Linked DNA regions of Homo sapiens. The protein of the gene in region 1 purifies or fractionates together with the protein of each later gene. This does not show direct contact. Each region holds a gene or a part of one and is shown on either strand. Other genes may lie near its edges.

What was found. The genes of interacting proteins can lie anywhere in the genome.
Region 2: the proteins of BCAT1 (region 1) and FLYWCH2 purify together in Homo sapiens (affinity purification with mass spectrometry; 3 studies listed by BioGRID and IntAct, with this or other methods). This does not show direct contact.
Region 3: the proteins of BCAT1 (region 1) and HELZ purify together in Homo sapiens (affinity purification with mass spectrometry; 3 studies listed by BioGRID and IntAct, with this or other methods). This does not show direct contact.
Region 4: the proteins of BCAT1 (region 1) and RAB3GAP1 purify together in Homo sapiens (affinity purification with mass spectrometry; 3 studies listed by BioGRID and IntAct, with this or other methods). This does not show direct contact.

What each region holds. Positions count from the first base shown.
Region 1 is NC_000012.12:24,830,602-24,834,101, reverse strand, and holds part of BCAT1 (branched-chain-amino-acid aminotransferase, cytosolic), read left to right. Parts: intron 1-1,238; coding exon 1,239-1,379; intron 1,380-3,312; exon of another isoform or gene 3,313-3,401; intron 3,402-3,500.
Region 2 is NC_000016.10:2,896,540-2,899,865, reverse strand, and holds the end of FLYWCH2 (FLYWCH family member 2), read right to left. Parts: coding exon 3,095-3,326; intron 1,091-3,094; coding exon of another isoform or gene 1,020-1,090; exon of another isoform or gene 912-1,019; intron 818-911; coding exon 717-817; 3' UTR 501-716; downstream 1-500.
Region 3 is NC_000017.11:67,242,397-67,246,528, reverse strand, and holds the start of HELZ (probable helicase with zinc finger domain), read left to right. Parts: upstream 1-1,332; 5' UTR 1,333-1,381; exon of another isoform or gene 1,382-1,753; intron 1,754-2,689; 5' UTR 2,690-2,745; intron 2,746-4,132. UniProt on the Homo sapiens protein: May act as a helicase that plays a role in RNA metabolism in multiple tissues and organs within the developing embryo.
Region 4 is NC_000002.12:135,135,792-135,139,291, reverse strand, and holds part of RAB3GAP1 (rab3 GTPase-activating protein catalytic subunit), read right to left. Parts: coding exon 3,360-3,500; intron 2,665-3,359; exon of another isoform or gene 2,537-2,664; intron 1-2,536. UniProt on the Homo sapiens protein: Catalytic subunit of the Rab3 GTPase-activating (Rab3GAP) complex composed of RAB3GAP1 and RAB3GAP2, which has GTPase-activating protein (GAP) activity towards various Rab3 subfamily members (RAB3A, RAB3B, RAB3C and RAB3D), RAB5A and RAB43, and guanine nucleotide exchange factor (GEF) activity towards RAB18.

The sequences.
Region 1 (3,500 bases):
ATAATCCCAGCACTTTGGCACTTTGGGAGGCTGAGGTGGGAGGATCACATGAGCCCAGCCTGGGCAACATAGGGAGACCCCTATCTTTACAAAATAAAATATAAAATATAAAACCTAGTTGGGCATGGCAGCATACACCTGTAGTCCCAGGTGCTCAGGAGACTGAGACAGGAGGATCACTTGGGCCTGGGAGGTCGAGGCTGCAATGAGCCAAGATTATGCCACTGCATTCCAGCCTGGGTGACAGGGCAAGACCCTGTCTTAAAAAAAAAAAAAAAAGAAAGAGACAAACGTAGAAAGAGTACCAAATTTGGAGCCAATCAGATCAGACCTGGGTTCAAATTGAGTTTCTGTCACTTACTTCCTTTGTGGCCCTGGAGATGCCCTTCAACCTCCTTGAACCTTAGTTTCCTCATCTGTAAAATGGGGATGATAGTACTCACCCTTAAAATTACAGAACTTGGCATAATAGCGGGTGCTTGATAAATGGTAGCTATAATTATTAATATTATATAATACATTGTTCTCCTTTATGGTAAAGTAGGTTTTAAGACACTGATTTTTTTGTTTTGTTTTGTTTTTGGAGACAGAGTCTCACTCCGTCACCCAGGCTGGACTGCAGTGACGTGATCTTGGTTCACTGCAACCTCTGCCTCCTGAGTTCAAGCGATTCTCCTGCCTCAGCCTCCTGAGTAGCTGGGATTACAGGCACCCGCCACCATGCCTGGCTAATTTTTGTATTTTTAGTAGAGACAGGGTTTTACCAGGTTGGCCAGGCTGGTCTCAAACTCCTGACCTCAAGTAATCTGCCTGCCTCAGCCTCCCCAAATGCAGAGATTACAGGCATGAGCCACCGTGCCCGGCCTAAGACACTGTTAACACGGAGCATGCATCAAGCAGCATTTGGGATGCATCAATTTTGTGAGACTTTATACAAGTTAACAAATAAGAAGGCAAAAAAGAAGGCATATGTTAAAGTATACCATGTGTCTTGTGGTGATAATCTTATATTTTATATTCTGATAATCTCATATATAAATCTGTGACCTTGAAGTAGGTTACTTAACACCTCGATGTGTTCACCAGTAAGATGGTGTGCCACTTCCAGCTTTCCCTTAAAGGATGATTGTGACCTTGTCTAAGTGCAATCAGAATGTTAAGCAGAACAGTAAGTATTGCAATTGTTTTGCATGCCTTTTCCTTTAAAATATACTTGTTATTTTTTATATTCCATGCAGGGTGAATTTAAGGTGTCAGAGAGATACCTCACCATGGATGACTTGACAACAGCCCTGGAGGGGAACAGAGTGAGAGAGATGTTTGGCTCTGGTACAGCCTGTGTTGTTTGCCCAGTTTCTGATATACTGTACAAAGGCGAGGTACGACAAGTATTTCCTCATTTCCTATCATTTCCAATCACATTAAATTACATTTAATTTAAGTGTATGAATAAAATTGTATCTGGACCCAGACCCAAGATGCAAAAGTTTTGTCGTTGTTGTTGTTTTTCTTTATTTTAAAGAGATGGAGTCTCGCTGTGTTGCCCAGGCTGGAGTGCAGTGGCTATTCACTGGTGTGATCATAGCTCACTGCAGCCTCAAACTCCTGGGCTCACGCAATCCTTCTGCTTCAGCCTCCTGAGTTGCTGGGATTACAGGAGTGCGCCACCGCACCATGCTAGGTCTTTTTTGTTGTTGTTTTTGTTTTTTAACTTGGCACTACAAAAAAAATAACTGGGACAGTTTATCCAGATGAAACTGTATTAGCATATATCTACTATGTTTCCAGTGATTTCATGTAAGCTTAAACATGGTGGGAAGTTAGTTTTGTCCTTGGACACGTGTAAGATCTGTCTTACCTACATGTCGGGATTGGAGCTATGCCGACAGTCTTCTACTCTTCTCTCTTCCTTCCTACCAGCTCACTAGGGAAGGCTCTATAGGTAGTTACATTTCAGTTTCTGGTTAACCAAAAGTACTTCCAAACCACTGGATTAGGAATGGCAAATAGTTATGGAAAATGCATTCGAGTGGTCAATCCCTTGATTTTTTTTTACTATTAATGCTGTTATCATTAATAGTAAGTAGACCACTTTACAAGAATTATTCATTGGCAAACCTGGTGCATTTACTAAAATCTTACAAAAGGAATTTGAGGATTTGGTTGGAAGAAATGTTCTCCTCTTAGTAAATTAGTCTGATTTTATATGTGCCATACTTTTGTTTTCTTGTCAAATTGTTTTGCTTTTCACTTTATAACAAAGCTCCAATACTTATGATTAACATTGGCATCTAACTTTATAACTTAAAGGCATGTAAGTATTAGTCTTATAATGTGAACTGGCTTAAGTTATTCATATTATAGCAGATCCTTGAACAACACAGGGATTAGGGGTGTCAACCCCCATGCAGTTGAAAAATCCACATACAACTTTTTTTGTTTGTTTGTTTTTTTAAACGGGGTCTTTCTCTGTCACCTGTACTGGAGTGCAGGGGCACAATCTCGGCTCACTGCAACCTCCGCCTCCCAAGCTCAAGCGATCCTCTCACCTCAGTCTCCCAAGTAGCTGGGACCACAGGTGTGCACCACCACACCCAGCTAATTTTAGTATTTTTTGTAGAGACGGGGTTTCAAGATGTTTCACAGGCTGGTCTCAAACTCTTGAGTTCAAGTGATTCACCTGCCTTGACCTCCCAAAGTGCTGGTATTACAGGCGTGAGTCACCATGCCCGGCCCACATATAACTTTTGACTTCCCAAAAACTTAACTACTAGTAGCCTGCTGTTCACCGGAAGCCTTATCAACAACAAAAACAGTCGATTGGCACATATTTTGTATGTTATGTATGTTATATATGTATTCTTACAATAAAGTAAGTTACGAAAATCATGGGGAAGGGAAAATATATTTACTATTCATTACATGGAAGTGGATCATCATAAAGGTCTTCATCCTCATTGTCCATCATGTTGAGTAGGCTGAGGAGGAGGAGGAGGAGGAGGGATTGGTCTTGCTGTTTTAGGAGTGGCAGAGGCAGAAGAAAGTCCACGTATAAGTGAACTTGTGTAGTTCAAACCCGTGTTGTTCAAGTGTCAACCGTAAATGCAAACTCCACTGGTTTTCAAATTTTACTTTAGAGTTATTTTCCCTCAGCTGATTGGAGTTTTGCTCAACTCCTCTGACTTTAATAATGGCTGCTTCATTTGTTGAGGTTTTAGAACTTGCTTTTAAGGGATTGCTCTTGACATAATTGCATCAACAGATAGACTGTTTCATGGGAGAAGAATTGTTCTGTTTCATGTCAATACTTACATTGATAAGAATGCATCAAGGTAATGTGATCCATCCACTGAAGTTGTCATTAGGCCAGATTTTTTTTAAGTTGAATTATTATTTCACTTCTAGAAATAAGAAGTTTATAAAGTTTAGCATAATTTTAATGATCCAGGCTTAGGAAGCATTTACAGCCAAAAAGTAAGTATATATAATTATCATATTAT
Region 2 (3,326 bases), on another chromosome or scaffold:
CCCTAACATTGCCTTGAGCCCAGAGGCAGTTGTCAAAGAATGAGGACTCATGGGAAGCCTCCTGGAGGCTCGCTGACTTGGGAGCTCAAGTAGGGTAGCTGTGCTTCCTTCATCTCCCCTCCAGCAGGGATGGCACCCAGGGGGCCAGGGCAGGAACTCAGGTTTCCTCAGCCCACAAATCCCCTGGAAAAAACATGACAGGCAGGCCGCATGTGCTTTTGTCAGGTTCCTCCCTGAACCCACCCATGAGCTGCAGGCCTACCTCTCCCTCAGCAGAATCCTGGAGCTACCATTCTCAGCAAGCCTGAGCTCCCTTAGTGCCTGGGAGCTGTCAGTCTGGGAGGCTTCATGGAGGAAGCGAGACTTGGGTCAGGGAGGGCAGTGACTAAGGGGCACTTTGGAAGGGCCCAGTAAGGGCTGGGGTGCGGAGACCCAGGGGTGGTGGCATCAGAGCTGAGCCTCAAAGGACCCAGAAGCCTGGGATGTTTAAAACCTGCCCATTATGGGGTCTAGCGAACAGCTTCTTTTATTCTTGTTTGAAAGTATTTTTCTGCTTACAAAAGTAACTTATACTTGATCTAAAAAAAAAAAAAAAAAGAAAAGAAATCACACAATGTTAAAAGCAAAGATTCACCCATTTGGCCCCAGAAGCCCTGCGGACAGAGAAGAGCCTATGGCTGGGTTGGTGGCCTGGGAGGATGCGCCTGTTGTCAAGGTTACAGGGACTTGCCGGGCGCCACAGAGCAGGGGGCAAAGTTCTCCCCAGCAGCCTCAGGAGGCCCCGCTGCTAATCCACTGTCTTCTGTTCTGTCTGTGCCTGCGAGAGAAGAGGGTGGATCAGGCTGGTGTCAATGGAGATGGGAGGGCTCAGCTTGGCTGTTGGGGGTCTACCAGGCCTCACTCTCACCCCAACCAGTGGATGCTCCAGGGCCAGAAGCCTCTGCCTGACTGAGAAGTGACTGCCACTCAGGGACGCTGCTCCCAAGGCCACCAGGCCAGGGCCACAAAAGCTGCTAAAGTCATTTCCAGGAAACTTGAGGCCAAGTTTGTGCTGAGCACTGGGAAGCCGCAGCCATCGCCTCTGCTGGACCTGGGGTGGGGATGGAAGGATGGAGGAGTTGGCAGATGGGGGTGGTCGATGCCTGAGGGTGATTGCCTGCGGGACCCCTGGCGCCTGATGGAGCCCTGCTCTGCCTTTCATCTGGCGAAGATGGCTGTGCTCCAATTCTCACAAAGGCACCACGGCCCCAGGCCTAGATGGATCCCAGCAGTGAGCAGGAGTCTCAAAGGGGCTGGGAGGACCTTGAGATGGTCTCATTCCACAGAGCTCAGGTGTAACAGATCCTGAGCCAGACTCCAACCCCCTCTGCCCTCTGCAGGGACCTCCTGGTGGCCTCAGAGTGGCGACTTCGCTCCTCTGAGCCCTGCCTCCCACAGGCCATGGGGACTGCATCCTCTGCCCAAGGTTGGCAGGAGAAGCCAGGGGGACAGGCAGAGGCTCTCAGAGCAGGACTGGATGGTGGGGGCTTCGCAGTAAGAGCCAGGCACTCCCACCGGCTCTGGGAGGACGGGGTCCCTCTGAGTCCCAGAGCACTGCTCACACCAGGCCTGAGACTCCAGCAGAGGGATGGAGGCCGAGGGGTCCATTAGGTTCCTTGAAAGCTCCAAGCCTGTGGCTGCGGACACCACCATCTCAGGCATTCTGGGGTCTCAGCCCCAGGGAGGCTGTGGGGCTGTGACCCTCTGTGACCTCAGGCCACTCACCCCTCAATTTCCATCAGTGAGGCAGGGTCCCTGCACGGCCAGCAAACTGAAGGAACCTTTTCTCACAATGGGCTGCCAGGCTGAGTGCCCTGGCTGACCCCAGGGGACCACCTGTTCTGGCTGACCCCAGGGGACCACCTGTTCAGAGGTCACAAGCCAAGGCCACCTGCTACGCCTCTTCTTCTCAGGGCACGGCAGAGCCCACTCCCAGTTGGGAAGAAACCCCAACTCACCTTCTTCCCACCCACTGGGCAGCCCCCTGCCCCATCTCCCTGGAACTTCCAGTTCAAAAGGTGTACCCAGCCCATTTCCTCTGCTGCCTAGGGCCCTGCCCCCACCGCTGCCTGCCCTGGTAGAGCCCAGAGGCAGGACCTGCTGTGGGGCCAGGAGGGGACCTGTCCTCCTGCAGGGGACAGCAGGGCATGGCCTGGGCCACCTCAGGGAGAGCTGGGTGCAGGGAAAGGGGCAGCCCTGCTCTCATCCCATCTCTGCTACCATGGCCCACCTGACTATGTTCCCCAAGTCTAGCTGAAAGGTCTAGTACACAGCAGGGGCAGAGCCAAGGGCCCTGGGGAGTGGGAGCAGGGACTGAAGATGCTCAGTGCCTCCATCCATCCCATCACTCCCACAGCAAAGCACAGGGAATGAACCTGCCCCATCACCTCCAGCCAGCCCGCAGCAGCTAGGGCCACACCCCCAGCCCCACTCTCCCATGGGACCTGTGAGCCCTGAGCTGTATCTCCCCGGAGGCTTGGTGGGGGGTGATTGTGCAGAGGAGGTAGGGAGAGCAGGGGCAGTCCCGGAGAGCCAGGCTGAGGTCACTGCCTTAGTCTGCTGGGAGTCTCATCCTGCGTGACTCGAGTCTCCAGAGCCCAGCCTGCACACAGCTGCTGTTCAGTGGATGTTACTAAGTGACTGAACGGTGAGTGAGACCAAAGAAGCTTTCTAGAACATATGGAAAGGTGACCCATCAAGCCCCCGGTCTTAGAGACCCTCATCGAACAGCTGCGAGCCAAGACCTTGAAGCTGACGGCAGCTGCCTGTGGGCCCCGCCGCACCCTCAGACCCTCCCTTGTGAAGGAGCCAGTAGGCAGCGCATTCCAGAGTGGGGAACAGACACAGAGAGGCAAGGCCGCTCAGAGGCAGGGTTGGAGGTCGGCGGATGCCCAGGCCTGTGCCCTAACCCCTGTGCCACTGCTCTCCACACGTGGTCAAAGTCAGGGAACAAGGACCCGCATGCCAGGGAGAAGCGCCTGATGGAGCCAGCGCGGCTGTGGGGGCCACCCTGGGAGGTGCCGAGCTGTCCTGGGGGGCCGCTGTGGAGCCTCACCTGGGTCCTGCCTGCTCCGTTTCTGCTCAGGCTCCTGAGGGGCTGCCTCAATGGCCCGCTGGGCCTCGGGGTGGGTCTGGAGGAGGGCCTTGGCAAGGGTGGCGGGGCCGGGCACCCCCAGGGACATGACACAGTGCACACCCTTGCGCTTGGCCCCCGCCACCTTGGTGCTGTCTTTGGAGGCTGTGAGCAGGACCAGTTTGGAGAACTTTCTGGGCTTCCTGGGGGCTGC
Region 3 (4,132 bases), on another chromosome or scaffold:
ATTTTGTACCGAATACAATTCGCAAGCATTCCTGTCTTGGAGAATTTTCTTTTGGGTATCTCCTTGTTGTAAAAACTTGCTTGGAAAAAAAAAAAAGCAACTGGAGCAGGCCTCCAAAGACAGCAAAGCAGGGACCAGAGGCTCTGCGGAGAGCGCGGGAGGAGGCTGACCAAGGGGCCTCCGTTGCTGGGGGGACCTGGGCGGCTGGACGCCGGGGTCAGTACGCTGCTCGCCCCGCGCAGCCGAAAGCGGGCGTGGTGTCGCGGGGAGAGGATGCCCGGCAGCAGTGTGGCCGGCGGGCTGGGGGTACTCGCCCGGGTCAGAGACCTCAGCCCGCGCCAAGGCGCCCCACACTTTCCAGCGCAGCGGGTCGCAGCCCGGAGACGCCGGGCGTCCCCACCTCCAGCCTCCCGAGCTGCAGCGGCGCCCGCGGTTCTCCCCCGACCCGCCAGGTGGACCCGGACTGGCGCACCCTGCTTTCCGCCCGGGACCCTCCCCCGAGCCCTGGCTGCCTCCGCGCCCCGCCCCGCCCGGAGCCCGCAGCCGGCGCCCCGGATTACCTGCCCCGGAGTCACAGTCCGCAGCCCGGACGCTCCCAGGGTGGCTCCGCGGAGCCTGGAGCCACATTCCTAGGGGAGGGGTCCCCACCTAGAGGGTCGCGGATCACGTTACCCGCCCGGAGGAGGAGACCGCGGGACACAGAGTAAACAAGGGGTAAAAAGTTGCATTTGGCTCAATTTTTTTTTTTAAATCGTGCTTCGACGCTGGTGGACTCGGGGACACGGCGTCCTCCCAGTTCCCGGAGCCCAACGGCCCCGGGGCGGTTTCCCAGGGCAGAGGCACCTCTCCGGGCGGCGGGTGCGGAGCTGGTCTGCGCGGCCTCTGAAGGCGACCCCGGCCGCTCGCGGGCTTCCTGGAAGCGCGGCCGCAGGAGCAGAAACGCTCACATCCACGCGCACAAATAAATCCGCGAGCAGCTCCGCGCCGCGCCGCGGGCGGCAAGGAAACCTCGGGTTGATTCAATGCAGACGCGGGGCGTCTGCCCGGGCAGGAACGCGGCGAGGCGAGAGGACCGGGCGTGGGGGCAGGGAGGCCGGGGCAGGAGAAAGGGAGAAAACCCCAAAGCCACGTTTTAAAAATGCGGGTGAATTTTCAATGCCGTCAGCCCGGGGGAGGGGAAGGGGCCAGCTGCGGGCGCCGGGGTCGGCAGTCCACCCGGGGCAACTTTCCGGGCGGGAGGCGCGGCCGGAGGGGGCGGCGCCGGCGGCGGGAGGCGGGAGTCGGGGGCCGGGGGGAGTCACTTTAAAGGCTCTTTCTTACCCATAATGCTTTGTGGGGACGTTGACAAGTGGATCCAAGATGGCGTAGAAAGTAATGACAGGTAAGTCCTGACTTCCCCCTTCTCTGCTCCTGGGGCCGCTCCGCGAGCTCCCGGAGCTCTCCGGGGAGGGGACCCGACTCCCCTCCGGTGTCCCGGACCCCGGGCGCGGCGGCCCCGGGGCAGGCTGGGGGCCTGGGCGGCCCGCGGCTGGGCCTGGGAAGCGCGGCTCTTCGAGGCGAGGCCCGGACGCTGGGGCTGTTTACAGCTTCTTCCCCTACTTAGTCCCCTTCCCCTCCGCTGGGGCCCGCAGCGTCCTGGGCCCTGGCAGGAGAGGGGGCCTTGCACGCCTGGCCCGGGAGCCTGCGGGAGGTTTCTCCGGCCCAGAGCACTCTGGGAGGGGGACTCGAGCCTCCCGGCACGTTCCCCTCCTCCGGGTCGCGGCTGGGGGTGGGGAGCGTGCGGGCCTCCCACGCCCCGCTCGATGCCCCCCCTCAGGCCTCGGACTTCCACCGGGTGGGGTGGGGGCTGGAGCGGGGGCGTGGGGAAAAGTGGGTCAGGCGTGCGCCCCCTCCCTCCCCCGCGGAGGGCTCTCGGCCCGAGATTCACTTTCTTCCCCCCTTTCCCCGCCCCCTCCTCGGAAATGCTCTTTGGCCCACAAGCACATCAACAAAAATAAAGATAGGCTCTCTTTTCCTGGAGATTCCTTGAGAGTACTCCAGTACCCTTTTCAAGGGCTCACAGACTGCAGTCTTACCTAGGGAACTTCGATTCCTCTCCCCTAAATTATTGGAGCCTTCTGCACCCTCGCCTTTGCTGAGAAATCTTCAGACAGGGCTGGAAGCCAGGGTCCTCTGATTGTTCTTGGATCGGGATCCTCAGGTTTTGTTTGCAGTTCAAAAATTGTCATTCCTTCTCCCTCACAACTTAACACTTCTCAGGCAAATCATTAATATAATAAAAAGTGTAACTTCAGAGACAGTGGATTCCTGGAGCGGGGGAAGGAGGGAGGAGTTGTCTGTCTTGCCTAGTTTGTTCTTAATTTTGCTCTCTCTTAAACTCATATTAATGAAATTTCCTCTCCTTCATTTCTTTATGTTTTTGAAAGTAAGGTCAGTCTGTGTTGAAAAAGATGATTTTATTATGTTTTTGAGTTTTAAGAGCATTGTATAATCTATTCTTTTACCTTACTGAAAGGAAATGTTTTAAGGTCAAAAACCAGACTCATTTGCAAAGCTGCACACTGTACCATTTTTGTAACTTTTTCCATTTTAAATGTAGATGCCCTTTCACTTCAGGCTGATAAAATGTTTGCTACTGATAATGTCTGTTACTGGTGTTGTATGGAAACATCTTTTCTATTTGCCTCAGGATTTGGATGAAGTAATGGATCACTAATGAACTACAGTGCTGGTGAGATGTGTAAGGTGAGACTGCAGTTAAAAATGATTTCCTTTTTTTCCTTCTTTATTTTAATCAACTGGTAAGAGTAAGGCTGAAACTGAGTAATTTGATGGGGCCATCTTTGTTTTCCAAATGTATCACTCAGTCAGTGGGTCTATGGGCAGGGCTAGATTTAGAAAGGAAAAATATGTTGAATGTACCAATCTTTTCAGTTGCTCCAACATACTCAAACATAGTGGTACTTAACTAAGAGCCAAATGTTACTTGCAGCTATTCTTGATCAGTATCTTCACCAGGGATAATTATAGTTTGCCTATTCAAATTTTCTTGCGTAACTTTACTTGGATGTCTTAATTTTATTTGTGTTTTGGTGTCTATCACCTACTGTACGTTTAGTCCCGGTGATTATGTATATGGATTTTGTGTGTACCTGGTTTGTGGGACTCGTAAAGTATACCCTTTCCGTTAGAAAGAATTAGGCAGGTCAATCACTCCTGCTTTTATTTTCTGAAAAATGGAGTAGTACTTTTCTCTTTAATAATTATTTTGAAATAAAGATGATAGTGTTGAGATCTGTTTAGCTTATTAGGAAATAGACTAGTTTGTCATTATGTCCTGATCACACACGGTGTGTGAATTTATTCAAAGTGCTTTATTTAATCTAATTTGTAATGCTTTGGATTTAAAGGATATTATTGATACAGTGTTAGTGAATAGTTTTCTGTGCTATAGAGAGGAAGAGAAGTTTGCTACTTTTACATTTTTCACGAGTTTTCTCAACTTAAAATGTTTTACTAAGTTTTTTTTTAGAAAAATAATAAGTAATTGTGGTCGATTGGTTACTGTAGTTTTTTTTTTGTTGTTTCTCCACACATCTGGGCCTCTGGATTTTGAAATCCTCTCACAAATTTTTCGTGTCTATCACAACATCTGTTTAAGAAGAATAAGCTATCCTTTTTTTTTTTTCTAGATTGAGGCATGTAATTGACATTTTGCCTTAAAAAAATAAAAACTTAGGAAAGGAAGGTGGACATAAACCAAGATTCTTTTGTAAGTGCACATACTGCATTTTCTTGTGTTTGAAACTCAGCAGTGCTTATGTTTATTTCATATAATTTTTATTTTTGGCAGAGCAAATATGGATTTTTAAATTTATTTTTATTTTGCAGATGGAGGCATATTCCTGCCTTAGACCTCCCAATTTGAACTTTATATATGTGTGTATATATACATATATGTGTGTATATATACATATATGTGTGTATATATACATATATGTGTGTATATATACATATATGTGTGTATAGATATGTGTGTATATATGTATATATGTGTATATATGTGTGTATCTATGTATATAGATAGATAGATTTTTTTTCTTTTTTTTTTTTTTTGAGACAGAGTTTCACT
Region 4 (3,500 bases), on another chromosome or scaffold:
TGGGATTACAGGCATGAGCTACCATGCCCAGCCAAGATCTGTACACTTTATTGTATTAAGTTATAACTCAATAATTAAGTAAATACATGAACATATGTTTTTAAAATGACTAGCAGAAAACATATACAATATATATAACTGTAGATTCACATCTAAAATATGAAGAATTCATATGAATCAATAAGAACAGGGGAGCAACCTAAAAGAAAAATCATAGGCGATTCACAGGAAAGGACGGCTAACGAACATATTAAAAGATGCTCAGGTTCATGAAAATTCAGAAAAATACAATCTAAAACACTGAGATACTACTTTTGACCATCATGTTAACAAAAATTTATATGGTTGGTAATACCAATTGTTTATAAGAAATTGAGGCTGGGCACAGTGGCTCATGCCTATAATCCCAGCACTTTGGGAGGCCGAAACAGAGGATTGCTTGAGGTCAGGAGTTTAGGACCAGCTTGGGCAACATAGCAAGACTCCATCTTTACAAAAATTTTAAAAGTGAAAAAATCAGCCTGGCATGGTGGTGAGCACTTGTAGTCCCAGCTACCTAGGAGGCTAAGGTCAGAGGATCACTTGAGCCCAGCAAGTCAAGGCTGCAGTGAGCCATGATCATGCCACTGCATTCCAGCCTATGCAACAGAATGAGATCCTGTCTCCAAAAAAAAAAAAAAATCCATAAAACCATGTATTAATATGTACACACATATATGTATTATACATCAATGCAGAGAAACAGTTATAAGAAATATAACCCAAACCAATAATACTTGTTAGTTACTTCAAGGAATGCAAGTCAAAATTAGTGGATGGTGGCTTTCACTTTTTATTTTTTTGAGACAGGGTCTTGCTCTGTTGCCCAGGCTGGAGAACAGTGACACAATCATAGCTCACTGCAGCCTTAACCTCCCGGGCTCAATTGATTCTTCTACCTCAGCCTCCCGAGTAGCTGGGACTACAGGTGTACGCTACCCCAGTCGGCTAATTTTTTTTTTTTTTTTTTTGGTAGAAATAGGGTTTACCATGTTGCCCAGGCTGGTCTTGAATTCCTGGGCTCAAGCAATCCAACCCCACCTCGGCCTCCCAAAGTGTTGGGATTACAGGCGTTGAGCCTCTTTCATTTTTACTAGATTACAATTTTCACAATAGAATGTTTTCAGGCCGGGTGCAGTGGATCATGTCTGTAATCCTAGCACTTTGGGAGGCTGAGGCAGGCAGATGGCTTGAGTTCAGGAATTTAAGACAAGCCTGGACAACAGGGCAAAACCCCACCTCTATAAAAACCACGAAAAATTAGCCAGGCATGGTGGCATGCACCTGTAGTTCCAGCTACTTGAGAAGCTGCGGTGGGAGGATCACTTGATCCCAGGAGGTCAAGGCTGCAGTAAGCTACAGTCATGCCACTGCACTCCCACCTGGGTGACAAAGAGAGACTCTGTGTCAAAAAAAAAACAACAAAAAAAAAACAAAACAAAACCCTTAAAAACAACTATTGCTGCTGTTGTTGTTGAGTTATTGCTGTTCTACATCCTAATGGTGTATATGACTTCAAACTATTTTTGAACAGATAAAAGCTAATCATATAATTGAAGGATATTTACTTTTGTTCTCTCTATATATTTTTGGATTTTTTCTTTTTCTTTAAGTCAATAAATTTTTGTTCAAGTAATTCCATGTTGTGATTTCTTCCACTGTCCATCAAGGTCACTTCAGATCCTCTAAAGAGCTGGAGTCAAAAGATTTATCTTCAAGTTAGCCCTTTTTAATGAAACTGATGCTTATTTTAATCCAGCTGTCCTGTTAGCCCATAATTCTTTTATTTTGGCTTCTGTCATCTCCTTTTAATATGGATATACTGATGAAGACTTCAAAATTCACCAAGAATCTTTGGGATCTAACTTCTTCAACCAATTTACTTTAGGGTCCTTTTTACTGTAGGTGGTGGATCTGCCTGGTTCTCAATTTGACACCCTAAGCGATCATACTCAAGAATAGTACAGATGTGTGGAATACGCCAATACCTTTAACTACAGACATCATGTTCTCAAGATAAAAGCCTTTAAAACAAAAAGCCATCGTAGGTATCAAGTCAACATGAAATTGGAATGCAAAATTAATACTGCTGAGGATTTCCTTCATATCCCATGCTGTTTAACTATCTCTTCCACAGTCCTAGAATCAATCTTTTTTAATTAAGAGACAGGGTCTGTCTTTGTTACCCAGGCTGGAGTACAGTGGTGTCATCAAAGCTCAGTGCAGCCTCCAACTCCTGGGCTCAATACTCTTGCCTCAGCCTCCTCTTCCTGAGTAGCTGCAACTACAGACACATGCCCCAATACTCAGCTAATTTTTAAATTTTTGTGGAGATGAGGTGTTTGTTACTTTCTTATACAGGCTGGTCTTGAACTCCTGGCTTCAAGCAATACTCCCACCTTGGTGTGGGGCTTGCAGGCTTGAGCCATTGTGCCTGGTCTGGGACCAACCTTTATGGCTATCAATATTCCCATCAGTTAACTGTCTCAGGTATCATAATATCCCTTCTTATATGTATCAAAACTCATACTGAACAATGAGTTCTGGGTTGCAAAAGAGGATTTATTTTTTGCACCTATCCATAAGTCTTTGTCCACAAGTTAAACAAAAACATACATAAGTGCAGTTGGATTTTCTTTTTTAAACATCTGAGCATTCACTGCTCAGTTTATAAATCACCTTATATATGATGACGTGATCTACTTAAACTTCAAAACATTTCTCAATTACAGAAATGGCAAACCTAAAAGCCCCAAAAGTTTATTTAGATTTCTTTAATCTTTAAACATAGACTTTGTCCAATCTTTTAAAGGTCCTTGATTAAATCAAGACCACATTTATCTATGTCATTGGGAAATCCTTACCTTTAGTTTCTTTAAACAGTCTATATCTTTATCTTTAAACATAAACACTTTTTTTTTCTTTTGAGACAAGAGTCTTGCTCTGTTGCCCAGGCTGGAGTGCAGTGGTGCAATCTCGGCTCACTGCAACCTCCCACTGCTGGGTTCAAATGATTCTCCTGCCTCAGCCTCCCCAGTAGCTGGAACTACAGGTGTGCGCCACTGTGCCCAGCTAATTTTTGTACTTTTAGTAGAGACAGGGTTTCACCATGTTGGCCAGACTTATCTTGAACTCCTGACCTCAGGTGATCTGCCCACCTCAGCCTCCCAAAGTGCTGGGATTACAGGCGTAAGCCACCGCATCTGGCCTAAACATAGACTTTTTGGATAATTTTCCTTACTCAAAGCACTATCTTCTACTAGGATGAAGTTATATAAACCACAAAATAAATTAAAATGGAAAGAACTAGTGCATCCTACCTGGGTTACTGGAATGTAGAGAGGTTCTCCATTATGCAGCAGTGTAAGTTTCCCATGCTGATAGAGCCGTCCTTCCGGCCTTAAATTTGCCATCTCCTTAGGTCCTCCTTTCTTGCCACTCTCTTGTCCATTTCCTTTAAG